Linked DNA regions of Homo sapiens: all the other regions are linked to region 2. The links come from fine-mapping of genetic effects on gene expression. A gene starts in region 2. Each other region holds a variant in brackets. All regions are shown on one strand. Distances are between the middles of the regions.

Region 1 (4,087 bases), 35 kb after region 2:
AATGGGAGGATCGCTTGAGCCTGGGAGGTCAAGGCTGCCCTGAGTCATGATTGCATCACTGCACACCAGCCTGCATGACAGAATGAGACCTTGTCTCAAATAAATAAATACATGTAAGATTGAGGAAGCTTCCAAATGTCCTCACATATGTAATGAAATCTTGAGGAGTCTTAAAATCTTGAGACTGTGGTGGGGGAGGAAGGGAAAAGGAACAGGGTCTTGATATGGTTTGGCTGTGTCCCCACCCAAATCTCATCTTGAATTGTAGCTCCCATAATTCCCATGTGTTCTGGGAGGGACCCTGTGGGAGATAATTGAATCATGGGGGCAATTTCCCCCATACTGTTCTCATGGTAGTGAATCAGCCTCATGAGATCTGATGGTTCTGTAAGGGGTAAAACCTTTTGCTTGGTTCTCATTCTCTCTTGCCTGCCACCAGGTAAGACGTGCCTTTTGCTTTCTGGCATGATTGTGAGGCCTCCCCAGCCATGTGGAATGGCGAGTCCATTAAATCTCTTTTTCTTTGCAATTTACCCAGTCTCTGATACATCTTTATCAGCAGCATGAAAATGGTCTAACACAGGTCTCTCCCCAAAAATATAGAGAGCTGGAGGTTTTTCTTAGAGATATGAATAAAGGGTGTGAGTGTGAGTGTATGTGCAAAAATATGGATAAAACCTTGAAAGTGCTGAATGGCCTGTAGCAAGAAGTGATGTCTTCTCATAGATGGGTGGCAGAGGCTGGTGGCCGGGAGAGAGAGCAGTGGGACTTGGGAGCACTTTTTGTGGGTATGTAATGGAGATTCCACCAGCAACAAGCTAAACCACTCACAAGCGGGCCCAGAGGAAGTAAACAGAACACTGTGGTTGAACCATCCTTGGCCTTCTGCAGCAAGGATCTGCAGCCTGGAAGGGGCACAGAAACAACCAAAGATGAAGGCTCTCAGAGCTGAGGAGAGGCCAGGTCAGAATATCAGAAGTCAAGAAACTGCAGCACCTCTAACACAGGGGAGGCTATGAAGTTCATGGTTCTGGATGTCTGCTCCCTGGGTTCAAACCTTGGTCCTGCCACATTAGTTGTGCAACTTGGAAAGTTACTTGGCTTTTTTGTATCTCAGTCTTCTCTTCTGTTAAATGGCACTAATAGTAAATGTCTCACATGTCCATTGTGAGAATTAAATGACTTTATATGTTTTTGGTGTTTGGATCAGTGACATGTATTTAGTTTTCTTAGGTACTTTTCAGTGCTTGGGAATAAGCATTAATCTTGAGGACAAATAAACTCACAAATAAGATACAGTGAGAGGCCACTCTGCATGTATACTAGGATTGAGCAATCTAGTAAATGGATGGCAGATGGTGGGGGCCATTTCACAGTTGCAGTGGGAGGTTACAGATAAGCAGGGAGAGAGCGCGAATGATCCATGTGGTAGTAGATCACTCTCTACTCCAAGTAGACTTGGAGACCTTGGTATGAACTCACATGCAGTTTAATATAGATTCAGGCTACATATACAAATATAGATAAGTATCTACACATGGGTTAGTAAAATACAGCAGGAAGAGAGATGTGGGAGTATAGAAGGGAGGTAAGGAATTTGGAAAAACAAGTGTGATTTCTCCAGTTGGAGAAGATGTGATAGGAAAGTGAGGGATGGGCATTCCAGGCAACAGACAGCACAGAGAGGTGTGGAGGCATTGAGGGATGCTACAAGTTATTTGGTCTGAAAGTGAAGCCAGAGAGGTGGCAGGGGCTGCGGGGTGGGGGCAGCTATAGTGGATCCTGTGGGTCCCAGGAGCCAAGTTGAACTTCATTG[T/A]CAAGACAACCAGGGGTTATGTGATGACCGAGTTTCCAGGAGCACCTGGCATGAATGTGAAGGGGTGGGGCTTGGATAGGGAGACCAGCTGGTAAATAATGAGGACCCAGCAAAGCCAGCAGTAGTCAGGGCCGAATGTGAGGGAGCATTCAGAGAGTCAGTAGGATTTGGGATCCACTCAGCAGTGAGCAGTCGGGCGTCCCTGCCAGGTTTCTAATATGGGCCAATGGGGAATGGCTGGAAGAGCTGGGTGGCAGGTTTTAGGAGAAGGTCATATACTTTTTGGACACATTGAGATGGAGGAGATCATGGGACACACAGAAGATATCCAGAAGGAAGGTGGCATGTGGCTCTGGAACTCAGGGGAGCAGGGACATAAGTTTGGGGAAACCATATATCTGTAAGCACCTACTGTGTGCCAGGCATGGCTCCAGGCCCTGGGGCCAGGGTTCTGAGTGAGAGTTGCAGTGAAGAAAAGTAGATTAGCCCAAGGGGTGACAGGTGGAGAAGCAGCTGAACAGAGAGGGGAGTGGGGCTGGCTGGGGGGCAGCAGATGCAAATGTCTTGTGGGAGAGGGTTGGCCATGGTTCAGGGAACGATGGGAGGCAAGTGATGCTGCGGCAGAAAGGGGGTTGGGGAGGAGGAAGGGGGCACTAGGTGCCTGGGGGCACTGTGCAGACACTCAGTTGGCCCCCAGGAGCATCAGAGATTCTATTCTGAATGTGTCGGAAGGCCACTGGCTCACTTGAGCCAGAGAGTATCCTGATCTGATTTGCAATTTAAGAAATCATTCCAGCTGCTCTGGAGAAGAGTCTGAAGGAGCCCACGAGACAGCAAGGAAATCAGATCCTTACAAAAGATTCGAGAATAGGTTAAAACCTCGCATTTGCATAAGATTGCCCCAGGTTTGCCAACTGAGAGGATGAAAGGTGAGAGGTGGGCTGGGTGTGCTGGCTCATGCCTGGAATCTCAGCACTTAGGGAGGTTGAGGTGGGAGGATTACTTAAGGCCATGAGTTCGAGACCAGCCTGGGCAACACAGTGAGAAACCCCCACCCCCCACCATGTCTACAAAAAAAGTAAAAATAAAAATAATTAACTGAATGTGGTGATGCACACCTGTAGTCCCAGCAACACGGGTGTCTGAGGCAGGAGGATCGCTTGTGCCTAGAAGTCATGATCACACCAGTGCACTTCAGCCTGGGCAACAGAGCAAGACCTTGTCTCTAATAAATAAATAAATAAATAAATAACTTTTTTTTTTAAGGTGGGAGATGGAGCACCATCCAACAAGGGGCACAGGAAAGCCAGCAGAGAGGACTGAGCTGCCAAGCTCTGCCATTTGCTGAGACTAGAAAAAGAGTTCCCCTTGGATTCAATGACTCAGTGACCTCAGGGAGTGCTGTCAGGGGTAGTGTGGGGGCAGAAGGTAGACTGCTAGGGTGAAGACTACAACTGAGGCAGAAAAGAAAGAATGGGAGCTCTAGTTATTGTTCACTCTTCCTTCCTCCCTTTGCTATTCCTGCTTGAGTGGGTGTTATGTCACTTACAGAACACGTACACATATATAACATAAAAAATAAGTAGACATAGGCCGGGCGTGGTGGCTCACGCCTGTAATCCCAGCACTTTGGGAGGCTGAGGTGGGTGGATCATAAGGTCAGGAGATCGAGACCATCCTGGCTAGCAAGGTGAAACCCCGTCTCTACTAAAAATACAAGAATTAGCTGGGCATGGTGGCGGCACCTGTAGTCCCAGCTACTCGGGAGGCTGAGGCAGGAGAATGGCACGAACCAGGGAGGTGGAGCTTGCAGTGAGCTGAGAGTGTGCCACTGCACTCCAGCCTGGGCAACAGAGTGAGACTCTGTCTCAAAAAAAAAATTTTTTTTAAATAAGTAGACATATATTAGAGGTTTGTAGGCAACATTTTCTTACTGATGGGGAGGCATGATTTTAAAAGTTTGGAGACCACTGGGAGCCAAGCTGCCTGCAAAGATCGGTGAAAGCTGAGGCGAAATGACGCTTTGGGAGAATTAGACAATGTCAGGGGATGGTGATGGCAGCAGCCACTCCAGACGGCTGCCGCTGCCATCACACCAGCTGCAGCAGGGAGGTGCAGCCCAGGCTGCACATTCCATGGAGCAAACAGGAGCTCCCCGGGTGCCACTGCAGCCACCCAAACTGCAGCTATAGACCCTAACCTTCTGCTCCATGGAGGAGGCAGGAGGCCCCCACCGACCCCACCTCCCAATGCAGCTGCAGCCGCCCAAAC
Region 2 (4,087 bases):
AGATCTGGGCCTAGATAGAAGCAGGTGTCATGCACTTGACATGACTGATGACTACAAACTTTGGACGATTATTTTTGGGGGGAGGATGGGGGACGGAGATGAGTCTCGCTCTGTCGCCCAGGCTGGAGTGCAGTGGTGTGATCTAGGTGCGCTGCAACCTCCGCCTCCCGGGTTCCAGCTATTCTCCTGCCTCAGCCTCCCAAGTAGCTGGGATTACAGGCGTCTGCCACCATGCCTGGCTAATTTTTGTATTTTCGGTAAAGACAGGGTTTCACCATGTTGGTCAGACTGGTCTCGAACTCCTGACCTCAGGTGATCCACCCACCTTGGCTTCCCCAGGTGCTGGGATTACAGGCGTGAGCCACCGCGCCCGGCCGGATTCTTCTTTGTGTTGGATTGCACACCTGTACCCGTCTCCTCACTCCCCCATCGTTGATTTCCTCTCCCCACCCTACCCCTGCAATTAAAGTGCATTTTCTTTGGAAACTTTTTCTAGATCTTTGAAATAATTGGAAACCTCTGGTCTTGCTATGCGTTAGTCACAAGTCAGTGTGCTAGGACAGTGATACGCAGAAGAAAAAGACAGGCAGTAGCTGGTGAAAGGGAATGCTGAGTTCTCCCTTGTGAATAGGGACCCCCCCGACCCCCCAACACACACACACACACAGACGGCCACGCTGCTAGGCTTCTCACAGTCTCCCACCCTGAGCAACCCTGGGGATTTGCTGCTAATGCAAGGAACAGTGCCTAACACAGGCTCCCAGTCTCTGCTTGTTTAAAGATGCATGAGATTCAGAATCAATCACTAAAGTAACTGGATTTACGCCACAGCAAATAGAACTGGGAGTATGTTCTGTAAAGATGAAAACCTGTGGGACTTGTGAGACTTTGGATTTTGGCCACTTGCGCTGGTGTGCCCTGTGGCAGCTGAATGAGTGCCAAACATGGGGGGCTGACAGTGGCCTGGCCTTGAGATGGCCGGACCCGGACCAGCAGGTGTGACTCATTTTCCCTGCCCTGCCTGGAAAGGGGTTCGAGGTATTTACCACCTTCCCAGTAGTGATGAATACACAGAAAGTAACATCCCTAGGTCATTCTGAGCTCCTTAAAATGGAAAATAAGAGGCCGGACACGATGGCTCACGCCTGTAATCCCAGCACTTTGGGAGGCCAAGGAGGGTGGATCACTTGAGGTCAGGAGTTCGAGACCAGCCTGGCCAACATGGCAAAACCCCGTGTCTACTAAAAATATAAAAATTAGCCGAGCGTGGTAGTGCACGCCTGTAATCCCAGCTACTCAGGAGGTGGAAGCAGGAGAATCGCTTGAACTCGGGAGGCGGAGGTTGTAGTGAGCTGAGATCATGCCACTGCACTCCAGCCTGGGACAAGAGCGAAACTCCGTCTCAAAAAAAAAAAAAAAAAAAAAAAAAAACAGAAAATGAGAAACTTTCCCCAAACAGTATTACACGGTGACTTGGGCAAAACTGACTCTCCACCAAGAGACACTTGACTGTAGTTTTCCTGGCAGGGAGAGCATCTTTGAGGTCTCTAGTGGCCCAATCTGTTGCCCTCAGATTACCTGGTGTCATGTAGGGTGGAGGACAGCTGTTGTTTGCCATGCGTTCCTGACAGAAATAACCCTTCCAGTCATTCACCATGAGCCTGACTGGTAGAGACTTTAGCAATGGGGAAATACCGTAGACTGTTCCATCAGGACAATGCTGGGCCTGCAGTCCCCAGGGGGCACCCACTTACTTAGCCAAACCCCAGACGTTTCATTTAAAAGCAGAAGTGAAAGGAAGACCAGGTTCCTGAAAGGGTTATTCTGACTTAATCTGGCTATAAAAATGCTATTGGCTGTTATTTGGCATGGCCAAAGTGCACCCAGAATGTCTTCTCTCTCCATTCAGTGCACGCGTTACTTTGGCTAAAAGGAGGTGAGCGGCACTCTGCCCTTCCAGAGCAAGCATGGAGCAACAGGATCAGAGCATGAAGGAAGGGGTGAGTGTGTTGCTCAGGGAAAGGGGCCAAGAGCAGGCTTGGCTGCCAGGGCCTGTGCAGCCTTCCTGGAGAGTCGCTGGGGGGCTCCTGGTGTTGCAGAGGGAACTCTGTGTTGGGAGGGATTATGGTGGGGAGAGGGGGAAAGTCTTGTCCAGCAGGTGGTCTTTTATAGGGAGGAGAGAGGTTTAGAGACAAGTGCTCTGTGGAAATCATTCTACTGGAACAGCCTTTAACAGCAGGATCTGTAACTGAATGGAAGAGACCCAAAGGATTCATTTGTCCCAACTTGAACCAAACATGTTAGCTGCAAAATCCTTCTATGGTTGGTGAGATGTTTCGCTCTGCTTTCGTTTTGCTTTTGGCTTCAGGGCAGTTAATTTTTTCAGCAAGTAACATAGCTGAGCTGCATGAAAGCAAGATAAACTCAGAAAAGGCGTTGCTTGATTTGAATTTAGTTCAGATCTGTCACGTAGGTTTCCTGCCTTTTAGATCCTGAGGCTCCCTTGTTTTAGAGAGGAAAGATTTTCATGGACTCCTGCAACGTAATTGCAGTTTACTTTCTAGATTCCCTTGATTGAGGAAAATGCATAATGTCAGAAAAGTAACACTGACTTATTAACACTTTATAAGAATTTGCATTTATTCATCACAATAGCATCTGCTTATATTTGGAGTGGAGGAAGGATAGTGCACATTTTTGCAAAACAGCATTTGTTCAGGCATGGATGTGAGACCCTCACCATAGGCAGACTGGAAACATGCTCTGTAGCACATAGATTAAGAGTGGGTCTTGGGAGGCTGAGGTGGGTGGATCACCTGAGGTCAGCAGTTCGAGACCAGCCTGGCCAACATGGTGAAACCCCATCTCTACTAAAAATACAAAAATTAGCCAGGCGTGGTGGCAGGTGCCTGTAATCCCAGCTACTCAGGAGGCTGAGGCAGGAGAATCACTTGAACCTGGGAAACAGAGGCTGCAATGAGCTGAGATCACGCCATTGCACTCCAGCCTGGTCAACAAGAGCGAAACTTCATCTCAAAAAAAAAAAAAAAAAAAGAGTGGGCCTGGGAAGTAGAAGCCCCCAGGATTCATTCCTGCTCCATCCTATTCTAGCTGTGGGACTTGGGTAAGTTCTTTAACTCTTCAGTGCCTCAGTTTTCTCATTTGTAAAATGGGAGTAATAACCATACCGCCTCATAGGGTGCTGGAGCAATTAAATGAGATAATGCATGTAAAGTACCTGGCACAGAGTGAGTTCCCCGTAAATGTTACTACTTTTCTTTCTCTCTCTCTCGCTTTTTTTTTTTTTTTTTTTTGACACAGAGTCTTGCTCTGTCACCCAGGCTGAAGTACAGTGGTGCGATCAAGGTTCACTGCAACCTCCACCTTCTGGGCTCAAGCGATCCTCCCACCTCAGCCTCCCAAGTAGCTGGGATTACAGGCATGCACCACCACACCCGGCTAATTTTTGTATTTTTAGTAGAGATGGGGTTTCACCATGTTGGCCAGGCTGGTCTAGAACTCCTGACCTCAGGTGATCCGCCCGCCTCGGCCTCCCAAAGTGCTGGGGTTACAGGTGTGAGCCACCGCGCCCGGCCATCGTAAATGTTACTACTTTTCAATCATTCTTTAGGCTGGTTTCTCCACCTCCGCGTGATTTCCATTTGGCACTGGCTAACGCTTCGTTGTAGGGGCTGTCTTGTGTGTTATAAGATGTTTAGCCGCGTCCCTGGCTCTACCTTCTAGACGCAGTAGCTCCCTCCCCCAGGAGTGACAACCGATGTCCCCGAGAGGGCAGAATCCACTCCCAGCCCTCAACTGAGAGGCACTGCTTTGGAGTCTACTCAGCCCCTTCGCTTGGGTCATCTTGTTTGTCTTACAACTAAGAAAGTGTTAGACAAATCAAGTGTCATCACCTCCATTTTATAGAAAAGAAACGGAGGTGATGAGGACTTAGGTGTTTGGGGTCCAGGGAGGTCCTCCGCTGTCCAGAGAAAGGCACAACTGCCACGTTCCCCACGTCCACCAAGTCCAGCTGCAGAAAGGAATGGAAACACCCCCACGTGGCAGGCCCTGAAACTGAGTAACA
Region 3 (4,087 bases), 50 kb after region 2:
GGCTGGGCACGGGGGCTCGCGCCAGTAATCCCAGCACTTTGGGAGGCTGAGGTGAGCCAATCACTTCAGGCTAAGAGTTCGAGACCAGCCAGGCCAACATGGTGAAACTCCATCTCTACTAAAAATACAAAAATTAGCTGGGCATGGTGGCGCATGCCTGTAATCCCAGCTACTTGGGAAGCTGAGGCAAGAGAATTGCTTGAACCCGGGAGGCGGAGTGTATTAGTCCATTTTCACGCTGCTGATAAAGACATACCCGAGACTAGGCAATTTACAAAAGAAAGAGGTTTAATGGACTCACAGTTCCACGTGGCTGGGAAAGCCTCACAATCATGGCGGAAGGCAAAGGAGGGGCAAGTTACATCTTCCATGAATGGCAGCAGGCAAAGAGAGAGCTTGTGCAGAAATACTCTTCCTTATAAAACCATCAGACCTGGTGAGACTTATTCACTATCACGAGAACAGCACTGGGAAGACCTGCCACCAGGTCCCTCCCACACATGTGGGAATTTAAGATGAGATTTGGGTGAGGACACAGCCAAACCATATCACGGAGGTTTCAGTGAGCCAAGATCCCACCATTGCACTCTAGCCTGGGCGACAGAGCAAGACTCCATCTCAAAAAAAAAAAAAAGAGAGAATATCAGGATGCACCAGCCAGCAACCCCACAGCTCGGGAGCTCTCTGCCCTCTTTCTGGTCCACTGCCCATTCTTCTCCTGTGCAAAACCCAAGCCAAAGGCGGGGGGGTGGGGGGGGGCACAGGAGCCATTGCTGCAAGTTGGCAGGGGACCTAGAGCACAGAGTCAAGCAGATGAGTGGATCATGAAGGCAGCAGGACGCACCTGGCATAGCGCTGTTTTTCAGGCACTCCCTCTCCTTCTCAGGCTTGTGGTTTTTCAGCCTTGGAAGGGATCTTAGAAATCATGTAGTCCCATTCTGCACCCCACTGATTGTAAGAATTCCCTGTTCAACGTTCCTGACAGTCATCGTGTCTAGTCTAGAAACCACCAGCGACAGCTTGAATACCACCAGTGATGGGAAGCTCTCTACCTCCTGGGACAGCCCATTCTTTGTTCCTGCCCTCCCCTTTGCAGGCAGCTCCGATCGTTAGAATGCTCCCCTCCCCAGCTTCTACCCCCACTGACCCCAAGTCTTCCTTCCTGGGACGTCTGCCCATTCGCCCCTTCTTCCCATCTGTCTTAATCAGTTCAGGCTGCTACAACCACAGACTTAAACAACAGACATTTATCTTCTCACAGTTCTGCAGGATAGAAATTCAAGATCAAGGTACCAGCAGATCTGTTTCCTGGTGAGGGCCTTCTTTCTGGCTTGCAGACAGCTTTCTTCTGGCTGTGTCTTTTTTCTTTTTCTTTTTCTTTTTTTTGAGTTGGAGTCTTGCTCTGTGGCTCTGGATGGAGTGCAGTGGCACGATCTCGGCTCACTGCAACCTCTGCCTCCCGGATTCAAGTGATTCTCCTGCCTCAGCCTCCCGAGTAGCTGAGATTACAGGCATGTGCCACCACGCCTGGCTGACTTTTGTTTCTTTAGTAGAGATGGGATTTCACCATGTTAGCCAGGCTGGTCTCGAACTCCAGACCTCAAGTGATCCGCCCACCTCAGCCTCCCAAAGTGCTGGGTTTATAGGCTTGATCCACCATGCCCAGCCTGGCTGTGTCTTCACGGGGCAGAAAAAGAGAGTGGTTTCTTGTATGTCTCTTCCTATCCCATCGTGAGGGCCCCACATGACCTATTCACCTCCCAGAGGTCCCTCCTGCTGATCCCATCACACTGGGGTTAAGGCCTTCAACATAGGAATTTGGGGGACACCATTCAGTCCACGGCCCCCTGCTTCAGCTCTTTCTCGGGCACATTCCCCGCGCCTCTGTAGTGACTGCCCGCAGAATAGGAGCTGGTGTTGGGAGGGCTTCCGCGGCCTCCACGCACCCCTGCCCTCTGGGCTCACTGTCTTTGCAGAAAGGGGACCCTGCTGATCAACAACATCTTTGCCATCATCCCCGCCATCCTGATGGGAGTCAGCAAAGTGGCCAAGGCTTTTGAGCTGATCGTCTTTTCCCGAGTGGTGCTGGGAGTCTGTGCAGGTACCTGGGGCCCAGGCTCCGGCTCAGCCTTGGGGGAAGGGTCTGTTTGGCCAAGGCTGGAAGCAGGAGCAGATGAGGTGTCTGCCTGGCTCTGCCTCTTTTCATTTCAAGAC[G/A]TCCTCCCATCTGCATCCCCAGGCCCTTGCAAGCCTCATGCTTGTTTTTCTTAATTAATTAATTAGTTAATCTTTTTTTAGAGACAGAGCCTCACTGTGTTGCCCAGGCTGATCTCAAACTCCTGGGCTCAAGTGATCCTCCTGTCTCGGCCTCCCAAAGTCCTGGGATTACAGGTATGAGCCACTGTACCTGGCCAAGCCTCACGCTTACTAGCCCCTTCCCTTTATTTATGGATCTTTAGAAACACTTTCACCTTGAAGTACAAATAACCAATAAGGTTTTACAAGGTATCGTCCCAGGAAGATGGACAATTTAAACTCAGTAGTTTCTTAACTACAGTAATTTCTTCTATGAATAAAAGTTAGACAAGCAATCTGTGCTTTAGAAAAATCAGAAAATAGACCAAAGCAAAAGTTTTATCGTTAAGTCCCAGGGACACACGGAGGCCTAGGCTCCTCCCCTGTAACAAGCGGCCCAGCCCGGTGGCTAGAAAGGAAAAGGTCTCCTCATCACATCCTGGTGACTCCCCCGTGGGGGCTGAGGATTCTGGAGGGATTTTGGTGTAAGTCCAAACTAAACAGTCGAGGTTGGCCGAGCTCCATCTCCACGGAGGGGCTGACAGCATGGAGAAGCCCCGGGATTAGGAAACGGAATTGAATTGCATCTCAGATTCTGCGTTTGCGGTTTGCCTGCCCTGATTTCTGCTGTGCCCAAACCAGGCATCTCCTACAGCGCCCTTCCCATGTACCTGGGAGAACTGGCCCCCAAGAACCTGAGAGGCATGGTGGGAACAATGACCGAGGTTTTCGTCATCGTTGGAGTCTTCCTAGCACAGATCTTCAGCCTCCAGGCCATCTTGGGCAACCCGGCAGGTAACCGGCAGCCGCAGAGGTCACGCTAGGTCCAGTCTCTCGTTCGGCTGTGCCAGGTGTTACTGACGGATCGAGTCAGATGAGACCCGAGAGATGATTTTAGGGTCAGGTGTTGGGCAGTGTGGTGGGCAAAGGGATGGGTGACGTGGTCGGGGCTGTTTTGGTGAGTGATGGCGACAAATCGTGCTTAGGAATGGGAATCGGGCTCTGAGGCAGGTAGGGGTTCTGCTATAAAGGGAAGGAGAGAAGTTGGGGAAGTGAGGTCGAGAGAAGAGGTTTCTTTCAAGCCATGAAAAGTGTCAGCATAATTTGGCTGCCATAGGAATGGTCCAGTACAGAGGGAAGTCAATGCAGGGCAAGCAGGTTCACAGCCACCGTCTCTGTCACTGGGTGGCTGTTTTCTTCTGGCGGCCTCTATCTTCCCAGTGAATTAGGAGGCAAGGCCATTGCCTGAGAGCGAGTGGGGGTCGTGGTGGAGATTTAGGAGAGAGGAGTGTGGCCCTCTGAAGGTCTGCTGAAAAATCACTGACACGAAGCCGATTGATTAATAGAAAAGGCATGCAAACATATTTAACCAGATTCGCAGAGCCTTCAGAGTGAAGAGCCAGAGATAGAGGGGAAATTGTCCGTTTTAGTCCAGGCTCAACAGAGTACGGACAGCCGAGTAGAAATAGCATTGGACAAAAAGGGTCTGATCCGACGTAAATGGACTGAGTGGGGAGACCCCGCGAGGCCTGTCTGTGTAGGTCCTTCTTGGCCTCTGTACAGCCTTCCTTCTGGGTGTGGGGCAGGACCCTCTGCAGAATAGGGGGCCTTTTATGACCTACAGCCAACAGCATTGGTCAGAGATTTTCCTTCTGGCTAGTTTTGTTGTTGTTGTTGTTGTTTTGTTGTTGTTGTTTTGAGGCAGGGTCTCACCCTGTCACCCAGGCTGGAGTGCAATGGCGCGATCTCAGCTCACTGCAACTTCCGCTTCCCGGGTTCAAGCAGTTCTCCTGCC
Region 4 (4,087 bases), 260 kb before region 2:
TGGCAACCTCGTTTCCTTTCCGTTGGAATAAAAAAATGACTGTGCTCTTCCCCGGGCCGCTCTGGGGTCAGCCTACACTGGATGAGGCTGTTCACAGCAGGCTCACACCGCAGGCGCTTCAGGAAGCTGACAAGGAGGGCGGGCATGGTGGCTCACGCTTGTAATCCCAGCACTTTGGGAGGCCGAGGTGGGCGGATCACCTGAGGTCAAGAGTTCGAGACCAGCCTGCCCAACATGGCGAAACCCCGTCTCTACTAAAAATACAAAAATTAGCCAGGCATAGTGGCACGCGCCTGTAGTCCCACCTACTTGGGAAGCTGAGGCAGAAGAATCGCCTGAACCTGGGAGGCGGAGGTTGCAGTGAGCCGAGATCACACCATTGCACTCCAGCCTGGGCAACAGAGTGAGACTCTGCCTTAAAAAAAAAAAAAAAAAAAAGAAGCTGACAAGAAGACAGAACTGACAGGAAGTAGAAGTGGACTTGAAAAAGGAGATAAATGCATATAAGACCAGGCCCTAAATGGCTAAGAATTAGGGACAGGCTGCTGTCCAGGAAGTGACAGATGGCTGTGCTGGTCCCTCTGGGAGCAGACACTGAACAGGGCAGACCAAGGTTCTCACCGAAGAAGGTGGGTTCCATGTTTCTGGCCATTTTCCCATGGAGTGTGCACCTGGGAGGCTGATTCTTGGACCCTGGGGGTTTGCTGGGTGCCTGACGCAGCCCACGAGGGCAGAAGCTCAGTGAGCACTTGCTGGTGGAGAGCACTGAAACCAAGTCTCAGCCACGGAGCCCAGGATGGGGCCCAGGCCAGAACCACCCACAGCCGATGCCCTCTCCTGCTGCCACCACACTTCCTGTGGTCTCCGTCACCCTCTACGCACTCAGGCTGCAGAAGCAGCAAGCTGACCTCAGGCCTAGACCCTGCAGGGAAAATGCTCTTCCAAGATCATGACCTCCTAATCGATAAATTGAACGGGCCCAAAAAACAAGCATCCTCTCTCTACCTCTCAACTGTATCTGAAAATACCACCATGCCCTTGACCTGAAACGCTCCTAGTTTTGTGACAGTATCTGACTCACTCTCTAAGGTTCTGTCTCAGCTCCTCCGCCTGTTCTTCCTGCTCCTTACACACAGATGTTTTTGAGGGTCTCTCCCTCCACAGGACCTCCCTCCGTGGGATCCTTTGCTCTCATGGCTCCAGGGAGTGTCTGCCTGTGAACCTGACGTGTCCACCAAATATCATCTCCCCAGCAGTGACCCTGCTCCCACTCATACATCCCTTGTAGACTCAAATGGCCCCCTCCTGGCCTCTACAATGCTGCCAATTTCTATCATCAACCTCTAGTTCACCCAGATTCAAACCCCTCATCTCCCTCAATTCCTCCTCTTCTTGGCTTCCCACATTAGCGCCAAACATTGTAAATTGCTGCCCCCATAGTTGCTGAATCCCACCTTCACTCTCACTGTTTAAGTCATCACTTGCAAGGCCACTGCAAGAGTCTCCAAGTCCCTTAGATCTCAGCCCACTCAAACAAATCTTCCTAAAACGCTCTCATTGAGATTTTTTTTTTTTTTTGGTAGAGGTGGGGTCTCACTATGTTGCCCAGGCTATTCTCAAACTTCTGGCCTCAAGCAATCCTCCCACCTTGGCCTCCCAAAGTGCTGGGATTTATAGGCATCAGCCACCTCGTCTGGCCAAGGCTTTTTTAAATTTTGAAAATCTGTAATTCAAACACGTACAAAAGAGTCACATATTTTCAACACTCAAACTGTCAACAGTTTGGCACATTTGTTTTTGGTCCTTTTATTACACAATAGTCAAATAGCCAGAGGACTGGAACAGACAATGCAAAGAAAAAGTAAATGCAAACAGTAAGTAAACTTGTAGGAAAAGAAGCTCAACCTCCCATGGAGACAAAAGGACATAAAAGAAAAGCAGTAATGAGATCGCACGTTGCACCCTCCAGATTGCTACAGAGTCAATACAGAGATGGTGCCTCCTGTCTACACACAGGAAGCGGAGAGCAAGTACCAACGTGGCTGGTGGGATCTGAATCCGGCAGCTTCGGGGAAATGAATGGCAACTGATCCAACAATTCCACCCCTGGTGCGTGAGCCCATAAGAATGAGTGCCGGCTAGGCACGGTGACTCACGCCTGTAATCCCAGCAGTTTGGGAGGCTAAGGCAGTGGATCAACTGAGGTCAGGAGTTCAAGACCAGCCTGGTCAACATGATGAAACCCCGTTTCTACTAAAAATACAAAAAATTAGTCGGGCATGGTGGCGCATGCCTGTAATCCCAGCTACCCAGGAGGCAGAGGCAGGAGAATCGCTTGAACCCAGGAGGCAGAGGTTACAGTGAGCCAAGATCGTACCACTGTACTCCAGCCTGGGCAACAAGAGTGAAACTCCACCTCAAAAAAAAAAAAAAAAAAAAAAAAAA[C/A]AAGAGCACCAGTAGCAGAAGGAGATCCATAACGGGTATTTATGACAGAGGTGCGGCCACTTCCTGCCACTCCAAATCGAGTGCACAGTCATTGACAAAGGTCACTTAGGCAGACCACTCTGATATGTTTGCACCATGAACCGTTGTTACACAGCAATTAAAAAGACGAGGTAGAACCACATCAGTGAGCCTGGAGACACTTCCACAAGCATTCAGCGGGGAGAGCACGACAGAATATGAAAGGAGAGCCCATTCTAATAAAATAATGGCATCCCCAAAGATGCAGACATACAGGTCAGTGCAGGCAGGGAGGTATGGAACTACTCTGGGTATATCATCCTTCAATAAAAGATTTAGGATTTTTTTTTAAGTATGTAAAAAAAAAAGACGCAGAAAATTACAAGTGTTGGCAAGGATGTGGAGAAACCGGAACCCTTGGGTATCACTGATGGAAACGCAAAATGGCACAGCCGCTGGACACAGTAGGGTGGTTCCTCAAACTCAAAATGATCGTACGATCCGGTAATGTACTCAACGCTACTGAACTGCACGTCTTAAATGGTTAAGATGGTAAATTTTAGGTTTTTGTATGTTTTACCACGATTAAAAAAAAAAAAGTTCAGAAGAACATGCTCCAGTCTAACATCAGTTTGGGAAGGGAGAGAAAAAGGAGGGGAGGAAAGGAAGAGGACAGGCAAACCCAAAATACTCCCCCAAACGTGTCGGGTGAAGTTAGGGATACGTGTGTCCAGATCACAAGGTCCAGCTGGCAGGATGTTACTGTGGTTCCCTTGGGGTGGTAGGAGTAAGGAGACTGGCAAATCTTTATTATTATTATTATTATTGTTATTATTTTGAGACAGAATTTAGCTCCTGTCGCCCAGGCTGGAGCGCAGTGACACAATCTTGGCTCACTGCAACCTCCGCCTCCCGGGTTCAAGCGATTCTCCTGCCTCAGCCTCCTGAGTAGTAGAGATGCACCACCACGCCCGACTAATTTTGTATTTTGTATTTTTAGTAGAGACGGGGTTTCACCGTGTTGCCCAGGCTGGTCTCAAACTCCTGACCTCAGGTGATCCGCCCGCCTCAGTCTCCCAAAGTGCTGGGATTACAGGCGTGAGCCACCGTGCCCAGCCTGGTACATCTTTATGTGTACATATCAGGTGTCATTCAGATTCTTCTCGATGAGCAAGCACCTAGCAATTATTTACGCCACTGATCTTTGACAAACTACAGTGAGAAGAGATGCCTTGTGTCCTCAGAATGGAGGTAAGAGACCCATGCAGATGGTCAGGTTTCCCTTTTGCTCTTTGCAAAAATGTGCAGTCACCTGCTCCTGGGCCACTCTGAACCCGCTGTCCTGTCATCCACAGCAATTTTCTCCCTGGACTCTAGGAATCAGTCCCAGAAAAGATTCCAAAGGCCTCATAGTATCCAAGTTTTGAGAAGAAATGTCTGCAGAGTCACGTTACCCACAGAACGCTCTCTTCTACCTCCACACCCAAGCCTACCATCCCCACGGCCCCACCGCCATGTGTCCGATGCCGAGATCTGGGAAGTCTCCTGGACTCCAGCACTAACTTCTTTCTTTCTTTTCTCTTTTTTTTTTTTTTTTTTGTTGTTGTTTTTGAAATGAGGTCTC
Region 5 (4,087 bases), 60 kb before region 2:
TGTAATCCCAGCACTTTGGGAGGTTGAGGCGGGCAGATCACCTGAGGTCAGGAGTTCAAGACCAGCCTGGCCAATACAGTGAAACCCTGTCTCTACTAAAAATACAAAAATTAGCAGGTTGTGGTGGTGCACACCTGTAATCCCAGCTACTCAGGAGGCTGAGACAGGAAAATCGCTTGAACCCGGGAGGCAGAGGTTGCAGTGAGCCAAGATCACGCCACTGCACTCCAACCTGGGCAACAAGAGCGAGACTCAGTCTCAAAAAAAAAAAAAAAAAAAAATTAGTGGGGCATGGTGACATGCACCTGAAGTCCTAACTACTGGGGAGGCCAAGGTGGGAGAATTCTTAAGCCTAGGAATTTGAGACTGCAGTGAGCTGTGGTTGTACCTGCACTCCAGCCTCGGCGACAAGACCTTGTCTCAAAAAAAAGTTTTGGAAGAATGTAGAGAAATTGCGACCTTCATTGCTAGTGCAAATGTAAAATGATATGTACAGTCACTTTGGAAAACACCTTGGCAGTTCCTCACAAGGTGAAATATAAAGTTGCGTATGGCCCAGCAACTCCATTCCTAGGTATACACATAGGAGAATTGAAAACATACACCCACAAAAAAACTTGTATGCAAATTTTCATAGTGGTATTATTCTTAATAGTTAAAAAGTGTTAACAACCCAAATGTCCATCGGCTGATGAATAATAGCTAAGTAAAATGTGGTATATCCTGCCGAGCGCGGTAGCTCATGCCTGTAATCCTAGCACTTTGGGAGGCCAAGGCAGGCAGATTGCCTGAGCTCAGGAGTTCAAGACCAGCCTGGGCAACACGGTGAAACCCCACCTCTACTAAAATAGAAAAGAAATTAGCCGGGCGTGGCGGCGTGTGCCTGTAGTCCCAGCTACTCGGGAGGCTGAGGCAGGAGAACTGCTTGAAGCCGGGAGGCAGAGGTTGCAGTGAGCCGAGATCATGCCACGGCTCTCCAGCCTGGGCGACAGAGGGAGACTCCGTCTCTAGAAAAAAAAAAAAAAGGTGGTATATCCATATAATGGAATATTACGGGGCAGTAAAAGGAATGAAGCACTGCATATGCTACGATGAACCTTGGAAACGTGCTAAGTTAAAAAAGTCAGACATAAAGGCCACAGAGCATATGAGTCTATTTACAGGAAATGTGCAGAATAAGCAAATCCACGGTAGAAGAGTGGTTGCCAGGGCTGTCGGGGAGAACTGAGGGCTAACAGCTGAGGGATAAGGATTTCTTTTTGGGAGTAATGACAATGTTGTAGAATTACATAATAATGATGGTTGCACAAACTTGTGAACATACTACTGAATTGTTCGGTTAAGAGGGCCAATTTTATGGTATGTGAATTACATCTTAATTACAAAGTTTGAAATTTTTAAAGAAAAAGCCATGCCCTGCCTAGCATTTCATTTTTTAAAAATCACACCTAGTTAGCTATGGTTTTTAAAAAATAGCATGCTTATTTTAAGAAAAGGTGGAAACGCCGGCTTCCCCAAGTCACCACCAACTTGTGAACACGTCGGGATCACGGCTGAAGGAATGAGGATCATACCCGAGAGCTGTTTCTGTTGCTAGTGGAAAGAATGCCTCTGATCCTCACGCCCTTCCACTCACAACACACACAGAAG[C/G]TGGCTGAAAAGAGGGAAAGTAATATTAGCCCTAAAAATGCCAGCCCTTCCTCTCACAGGACTGGATGTCCCAGACACCTGGCAAGAGCAGGGGTGGGCCTGGAGGAGCGTGGAGGGACAGGTGCTGGGACCTGGGGGTGCCCTGAGGTAGGGCTTAGGGACCTAGGGGCTTAGGGGCGTGGTGTGAGGGCGTGGGCGGGGCTCAGGAGCCTCGGGCACCGGGTGGAGCTTGGAAGCCTCAGGGGCGTGGCGGGGGCGGGGCTCAGGGCCCGGGGCAACGGGACGAGGAAGGGCACCTGAGCCAGGGTCAGGGCCCGGAACACAGGGGTGTGGCGGGGTGCGTGGGCGGAGCGGGGCGCGTGGGTTAGGCTCTAGGCCCAGGTCTCTGGGCCCTGTGGACAGGGGATCGGGGCGCGTGGGCGGAGCTCTAAGTCCCAGTCTCAACGCGGGGGCACACGGGCGGGGGGGGGGCGTGTGGGCGGGAAGGGCATGTGGGCCGGGGGACGTGTGTCCGGGGCTCGGATTGTGGGCGGGGCTCAGGGCCTGGGACGGCGGGACGGGGCTGGGAGTGTAGGCGGGGCTTAAAGGCCGGGGTACCGGGGTGGGGCGCGGCGCGTGGGCGGGGCTCAGGGCCCGGGATATAGGGGCGGGGCGCAGGGCGTGGACGGGGTTCAGGGCCCGGGGCCCAGATGGGCGGGGGAGCGGCCGGACGCGGGCGGGGCGGGCGCCTGGACGCGAGCCTAGGGCGCCTCGGTGCCCAGACGGCGGCGGCGTGGCCGCACGCGCGGCCCGGCTTCTGTCCTCGCGGCGCTCCGGCTCCTGGCCCCCCACGCCATGCAGCCGTCCCCGCCGCCCACCGAGCTGGTGCCGTCGGAGCGCGCCGTGGTGCTGCTGTCGTGCGCACTCTCCGCGCTCGGCTCGGGCCTGCTGGTGGCCACGCACGCCCTGTGGCCCGACCTGCGCAGCCGGGCACGGCGCCTGCTGCTCTTCCTGTCGCTGGCCGACCTGCTCTCGGCCGCCTCCTACTTCTACGGAGTGCTGCAGAACTTCGCGGGCCCGTCGTGGGACTGCGTGCTGCAGGGCGCGCTGTCCACCTTCGCCAACACCAGCTCCTTCTTCTGGACCGTGGCCATTGCGCTCTACTTGTACCTCAGCATCGTCCGCGCCGCGCGCGGGCCTCGCACAGATCGCCTGCTTTGGGCCTTCCATGTCGTCAGGTGGGTGGCGGTGGCGCTGCTTTTCCAGGAGCCCCCGACACAGGCCGACCCCTCCCGGTCTTGCCCTCCCAGAGGCCGCGTCTAGGTTGGACACCCCCTACCCACAGCAAGCAGTGCCTGCTGGCGCCCCCGAGGCTGTCCTGGGCCAGCGGGAGGAGGCCAGCCTTGCCCGAGATTCGCTCCCTCCCGAAGGAGCCCCGCTGTGCCTGCCCCAGGGCACAGCCCCTTGGGGTAGTGGGGACAGAGTTCGCCCCCAGAGCCGGGCCCTGTTTCCTTGGACGGGGCTGGGGAGGACACTCTGAGCCCCTTGTGACCTGCTTCACTGTGTCCTGGCTGTCTCTGCTGCCCATGGGGAAACAGGCTGGGAGACGAGTTAGGTAACTGTCCCGGGCTGGAGAGCCGGCAACTGCCAGTCCCACGCCACCACCCCACCCCAAGCCACAGTGAGCTTGGTGCACTCCGCCACTCCCGAGCTGCCGTGTCTCTGCTGTACAGTTTACAAAGGACTGTGCTTTTTATTCTGTCTTTGGTCGTTTCTAGCCTCAGGCCCCAGCCCCTTGTATTTCTGTTCTAGATGATCTTGACTTTCCAGAGTTCAGCAATTCTGAGATTGAGGGCAGGGGCGGAGGGCTGGTCTGGGAGTCTCGGAGTCCTCCTGGAGTCTCTCTGAGAGTGGGGAAAAGCCAAGACCTTACTTTGCGATTCAAGCGTCTTTCAAGTAAGCCTCGCTGAAGAGGGTCGGCCCTTCCCTGGGGAATGTCAGGTTTTGAAAATCTCATGGCGTCCTGTGCTGTGCTGAACTGAGGGCAGGAATCCTAGGGGCTGTTTTCCTTTTCTCCTTCTCCCAGATCAGAGCATCAGATACTGCCCTAATTATAGGTCCTTTCTATTAAAAACTTAAGTGCATTCCAAGGACTGCGAGCACAGTCAGCACTTTGGCAGAGACAGGTCACCTGGGTGTCACACGGCAAGGCTACAGGGCTGTAAGAGTCGCTTGACCTTCAGTTGTGCACTGAGGCCGGCTGGTCCTTGAGAAACTAAGTGACCTGCTTCTCAGCTGTACAAGTAAAAAATCTTTGCAACACATCATCCAAACCGAGGCTCAGATGCTGCAGATGGAATAGGGCCCTGCCTTGCCTTGCCTTCCCGGCAGCATCCCATCTGACCCTGTCTGGGTCCCGTGATGGCTGGCTGGGTGTGGGCCCCGAGTACACGGGAGA
Region 6 (4,087 bases), 67 kb after region 2:
TTCCGAAGACAAGATGGGCCACAAACTCTGCGCTCTCAGCACCTTCAGGGCACAGAGGCCATAAACCCCTACTGTCAAAAGGTTAAGCAGTCTTTTTTTTTTTTTTTTAGACAGGGCCTTGCTCTGTCACCCAGGCTGGAATGCAGTGGTGCAACCACAGCTCATAGCAGCCTTGACCTCCCAGGCTTAAGTGATCCTCCTACCTCAGCCTCCCAAGTCGCTGGGACCACAGGCATGGGCCACCACACATGGCTATTTATTTATTTATGTATTTTAGGGATGGGGTCTTGCTATATTGCCCAGGCTGGTCTCAAACTTCGAAAGTGCTGGGATTATAGGTGTGAGCCACAGCACCCAACCAGATTCTTTTTGATAATAGGGTGAGGGGGAATCCAATTTCTAGCTTTTTTTTTTTTTTTCCTGCAAACAATCTTTAGTGATCACAGTTTTCTAGCTATATCATTCCTCCAGGAGTGAAACAAAACTGGCTGCCAAGCAACTCCTTTATGGACTCACAAAGGCCTCGACCAGCATTGGTTATTTGTTGTTTGTTTTGGGGTTTTTGTTTTTGTTTTTGTTTTTTTGAGACAGTCACGCTCTGTTGCCCAGGCTGGAGTGCAGTAGCGCGATCTTGGCTCACTGCAACCTCTACCTCCTGGGTTCAAGCGATTCTCCTGCCTCAGACTCCCAAGTAGCTGGGATTACAGGTGTACACCACCATGCTCAGCTAATTTTTGTATTTTTAATAGAGACAGGGTTTCATCATGTTGGCCAGGTTGGTCTCAAACTCCTGACCTCAGGTGATCCACCTGTCTTGGCCTCCCAAAGTGCTGGGATTACAGGCATGAGCCAACGTGCTCAGCTGAATCAGCACTGTTGCCTTTCTCTGCCCCCTCCTGTCTTTCTCGTCTCCTGGTCTAGGAGGCCATCGGTGCCTACAGTTTCATCATCTTTGCCGGAATCTGCCTCCTCACTGCGATTTACATCTACGTGGTTATTCCGGAGACCAAGGGCAAAACATTTGTGGAGATAAACCGCATTTTTGCCAAGAGAAACAGGGTGAAGCTTCCAGAGGAGAAAGAAGAAACCATTGATGCTGGGCCTCCCACAGCCTCTCCTGCCAAGGAAACTTCCTTTTAGTGGCCCTGCATGAAGGACGGGAGCCCATATTCAAGGCTTCCTTCTATGACAATGGGCCTCCCGGCCCCAGGCTCTGGGGAGGATAATAGCACGGAGGCTTTTGTCGTTGCCCCCATTTAACTTAATTATGGATATTATTAAATACCCACAACAATGCATATTTAGCTGAGAAGTTCCAAGGCTAGCCATTGAGGAATGACCTGGAGGAAGGGGCCGGCACGTGAATTTTGATTGGTTAAGACTCGATTTTCCGATTCTACATTGGCACCAAAATTTAAATGATGTATAGATGCACTTTTTTAAAGTAAAACTTTTCAAGTTCCACAATTGCTATGGATACCCGAGCTGCCGTCATTGCATCAATTAAGGAGTCCAAGGCTCTGAATGCCATTGCCTTCCTGGCGACGTGGCTTCCTTTCTCCACCCCGTGGCTGCAGGTTGCACCGTGAATCCCAGCCTGCGTGCCCAGCTCTGTCCTGTCGATCACAGGGTGAAGGGGGCCAGCCCCTCGACACCTGTGGGTATTTCTCGTCAGGTGGGATGAGAGACTGAAAAAAGAAATAAGACACAGAGACAAAGTATAGAGAAAGAACAGTGGGCCCAGGGGACCGGCGCTCAGCATACGGAGGACCCTCACCAGTACTGGTCTCTGAGTTCCCTCAGTATTTATTGATCACTATCTCTACTGTCTTGGTGAGGGGGATGTGGCAGGACTATAGAGTAATGGTGGGGAGAGGGTCAGCAGGAAAACATGTGAGCAAAGGCTCTGTGTCATAAATAAGTTTAAGGAAAGGTGCTGTGCCTTGATGTGCACATAGGCCAGAGTTATGTTTGACTTTACACAAACATCTCAGTGTAGTAAAGAGCAGTATTGCCGCCAGCATGTCTCACCTCCAGTCATAAGGCAGTTTTCTCCTATCTCAGTAAACAGAACGTACGCTCGGGTTTTATACCGAGACATTCCGTTCCCAGGGACGAGCAGGAGACAGATGCCTTCCTCTTACCTCAATTGCAAAGAGGCCTTCCTCTTTCACTAATCCTCCTCGGCACAGACCCTTTACGGGTGTCGGGCTGGGGGACGGTCAGGTCTTTCCCCTCCCACGAGGCCATATCTCAGGCCATCTCCATGGGGGGAAGCCTTAGACAATACCCAGGCTTTCTTGGGCAGAGGTCCCTGTGGCCTTCCGCAGTGCATTGTGTCCCTGGGTACTCGACAATGGAGAA[T/G]GGCGATGACTTTTACCAAGCACACTGCCTGCAAACACATTTTTAACAAGGCGCATCCTGCACAGCCCTAAGCCATTAAACCTTGAGTCAACACAGCACATGTTTCTGCGAGCACAGGGTTGGGGCTAGGGTTACAGATTAACAGCATCTCAAGGCAGAAGAATTTTTCTTAGTACAGAACAAAATGGAGTTTCTTCTGTCTACTTCTTTCTACATAGACACAGTAGCAGTCTGATCTCTCATTCTTCCCCCCACAACAGGGGCCACAGGCAAGGGAGTAAGACCATTCCCAGTCCACTCTCTCTCCTCCTCTCCCTCCAATGGGGAAGTTGATATCTTCCTTGAAAACAAGGTGCAGTGCCGGGCGTGGTGACTCACACCTGTAAACCCAGCACTTTGGGAGGCTGAAGCGAGTAGATCACCTGAGCTCAGGAGTTCGAGACCAGCCTGGGCAACACAATGAAACCCCGTCTCTACTGAAAATACAAAAATTGGCCAGTGCGGTCATGTGCGCCTATAGTCCCAGCTGCTTGGGAGGCTGAGGCAGGAGAATTGCTTGAGCCCGAGAGGCAGAGGTTGCAATGAGCCATAATGCCACTGCATTCCAGCCTGGGTGACAGAGTGAGACCCTGTCTAAAAAAAAAAAAAAAAAAAAATAGCACCTGCATTCAGGCCTGACCATGTCACTCCCTGCTGGAATCCTAGGCTGATTCTATCACTCGAGATGATAAGGCTGGAACCGTATTGTCATAACGTGGGTTTCCTGCCACCACCCCAAGTACTTCCAATCCTCTGTGCCTTTCTCCCTGGCGTGCTTTCATGTGCCTTCCCTCCAAACGATCACAGCCCTACCCAGCCTTCAAAACCCAGCTCGAATGAGCCTGAAGAACCTCTCCTGTCCTGTCCAGCGGGAGGTCCTCTCACCTCTGGGCCCTGGAATCACCGTGCATCTTTTTCCATTGGCATGCTTGTCACTTTGCATATTAATTATAGGTTTACCTGTTGCCCTGTAGTGTCCAAACTTAGTGGCTTAAAACAATGACAGCTATTGTGACTCCTGGTTCCTGTGGGTCAGGAATTCAGATAGGACTCGGTGGGAATGGCTTCTCTCTGCCCTTTGACATCTGGGGCTTCAGCTGGAAGACTCGGAGGCCCAGGAGCAGAGCTGTCTAGAGGCTTCTTCCGCTTCTGATCGCTGGTGCTGGAGGGCAGTGAAACTGACACTCAGCCTGGGCTCCTCACACCTGGGGCACTGGATTCCTGGGGGTGATGGGGCAGGGGGAGACAGAGTCACACACACACACACACACACACACACACACACACACACCAGGAAAGTCACATGCTGTTTGCTAGATGCTAGTCAGTCACTCCGGCCCACAATAGTGGCAGGGGGGATGGTTGTGTTGAGAATTAGACCACCCCTTTTATTTTATTTTTATTTATTTATTTATTTTGAGACAGAGTCTTGCTCTGTTGCCCAGGCTGGAGTGCAGTGGCACAATCTCGGCTCACTGCAACCTCTGCCTCCCAGATTCAAGCGATTCAGCTGCCTCAGCCTCCCAAATAGCTGGGATTACAGGTGCGCACCACCACACCCAGCTAATTTTTGTATTTTTAGTAGAGATGGGGTTTTACCATGTTGGCCAGGCTGGTTTTGAACTCCCAACCTCAGGTGATCCATCTGTCTCGGCCTCCCAAAGTGCTGGGATTACAGGCATGA

Which allele goes with the higher level. Alleles are on the strand shown, and positions count from the first base shown. SD is a standard deviation of normalised expression in the study named. Not every link is listed here.
In carriers of allele T in region 6, the expression in prostate of the gene that starts at base 1,869 in region 2 tends to be higher than with G alone (moderate effect, 0.60 SD a copy in GTEx).

The links. PIP is the estimated chance that this variant, and not a neighbour inherited with it, causes the effect.
Region 1: its variant is fine-mapped to the expression of SLC2A5 in whole blood (TOPMed, PIP above 0.99).
Region 3: its variant is fine-mapped to the expression of SLC2A5 in blood mononuclear cells (TOPMed, PIP 0.93).
Region 4: its variant is fine-mapped to the expression of SLC2A5 in whole blood (INTERVAL, PIP above 0.99).
Region 5: its variant is fine-mapped to the expression of SLC2A5 in whole blood (TOPMed, PIP 0.92).
Region 6: its variant is fine-mapped to the expression of SLC2A5 in prostate (GTEx, PIP above 0.99).

Annotation. Positions count from the first base shown.
Region 1 is chr1:9,032,202-9,036,288 of GRCh38, reverse strand. SLC2A5 (solute carrier family 2 member 5) reads left to right here. Exons shown (of 12, transcript NM_003039.3): 12 at 1-1,183. Among named protein-coding and RNA genes, the nearest start is that of SLC2A7, 7.8 kb to the right of the region's middle. The variant T/A (reference allele first, on the strand shown) is at 1,817.
Region 2 is chr1:9,067,417-9,071,503 of GRCh38, reverse strand. SLC2A5 (solute carrier family 2 member 5) reads left to right here and starts at 1,869. Exons shown (of 12, transcript NM_003039.3): 1 at 1,869-2,000. The coding sequence starts at 1,968.
Region 3 is chr1:9,017,223-9,021,309 of GRCh38, reverse strand. SLC2A7 (solute carrier family 2 member 7) reads left to right here. Exons shown (of 12, transcript NM_207420.3): 4 at 1,977-2,101; 5 at 2,935-3,087. Among named protein-coding and RNA genes, the nearest start is that of SLC2A7, 7.2 kb to the left of the region's middle. The variant G/A (reference allele first, on the strand shown) is at 2,215.
Region 4 is chr1:9,329,680-9,333,766 of GRCh38, reverse strand. All of the region lies in intron 1 of SPSB1 (splA/ryanodine receptor domain and SOCS box containing 1), which reads right to left. Among named protein-coding and RNA genes, the nearest start is that of SPSB1, 39 kb to the right of the region's middle. The variant C/A (reference allele first, on the strand shown) is at 2,446.
Region 5 is chr1:9,127,425-9,131,511 of GRCh38, reverse strand. It overlaps GPR157 (G protein-coupled receptor 157), which reads left to right and starts at 2,410. Exons shown (of 4, transcript NM_024980.5): 1 at 2,410-2,867. The coding sequence starts at 2,485. RefSeq lists enhancers at 533-622, 913-1,032, 1,053-1,122 and silencers at 1,824-2,143, 2,204-2,553. The variant C/G (reference allele first, on the strand shown) is at 1,651.
Region 6 is chr1:9,000,353-9,004,439 of GRCh38, reverse strand. It overlaps SLC2A7 (solute carrier family 2 member 7), which reads left to right. Exons shown (of 12, transcript NM_207420.3): 12 at 922-1,467. The coding sequence ends at 1,140. Among named protein-coding and RNA genes, the nearest start is that of SLC2A7, 24 kb to the left of the region's middle. RefSeq lists an enhancer at 1-159. The variant T/G (reference allele first, on the strand shown) is at 2,365.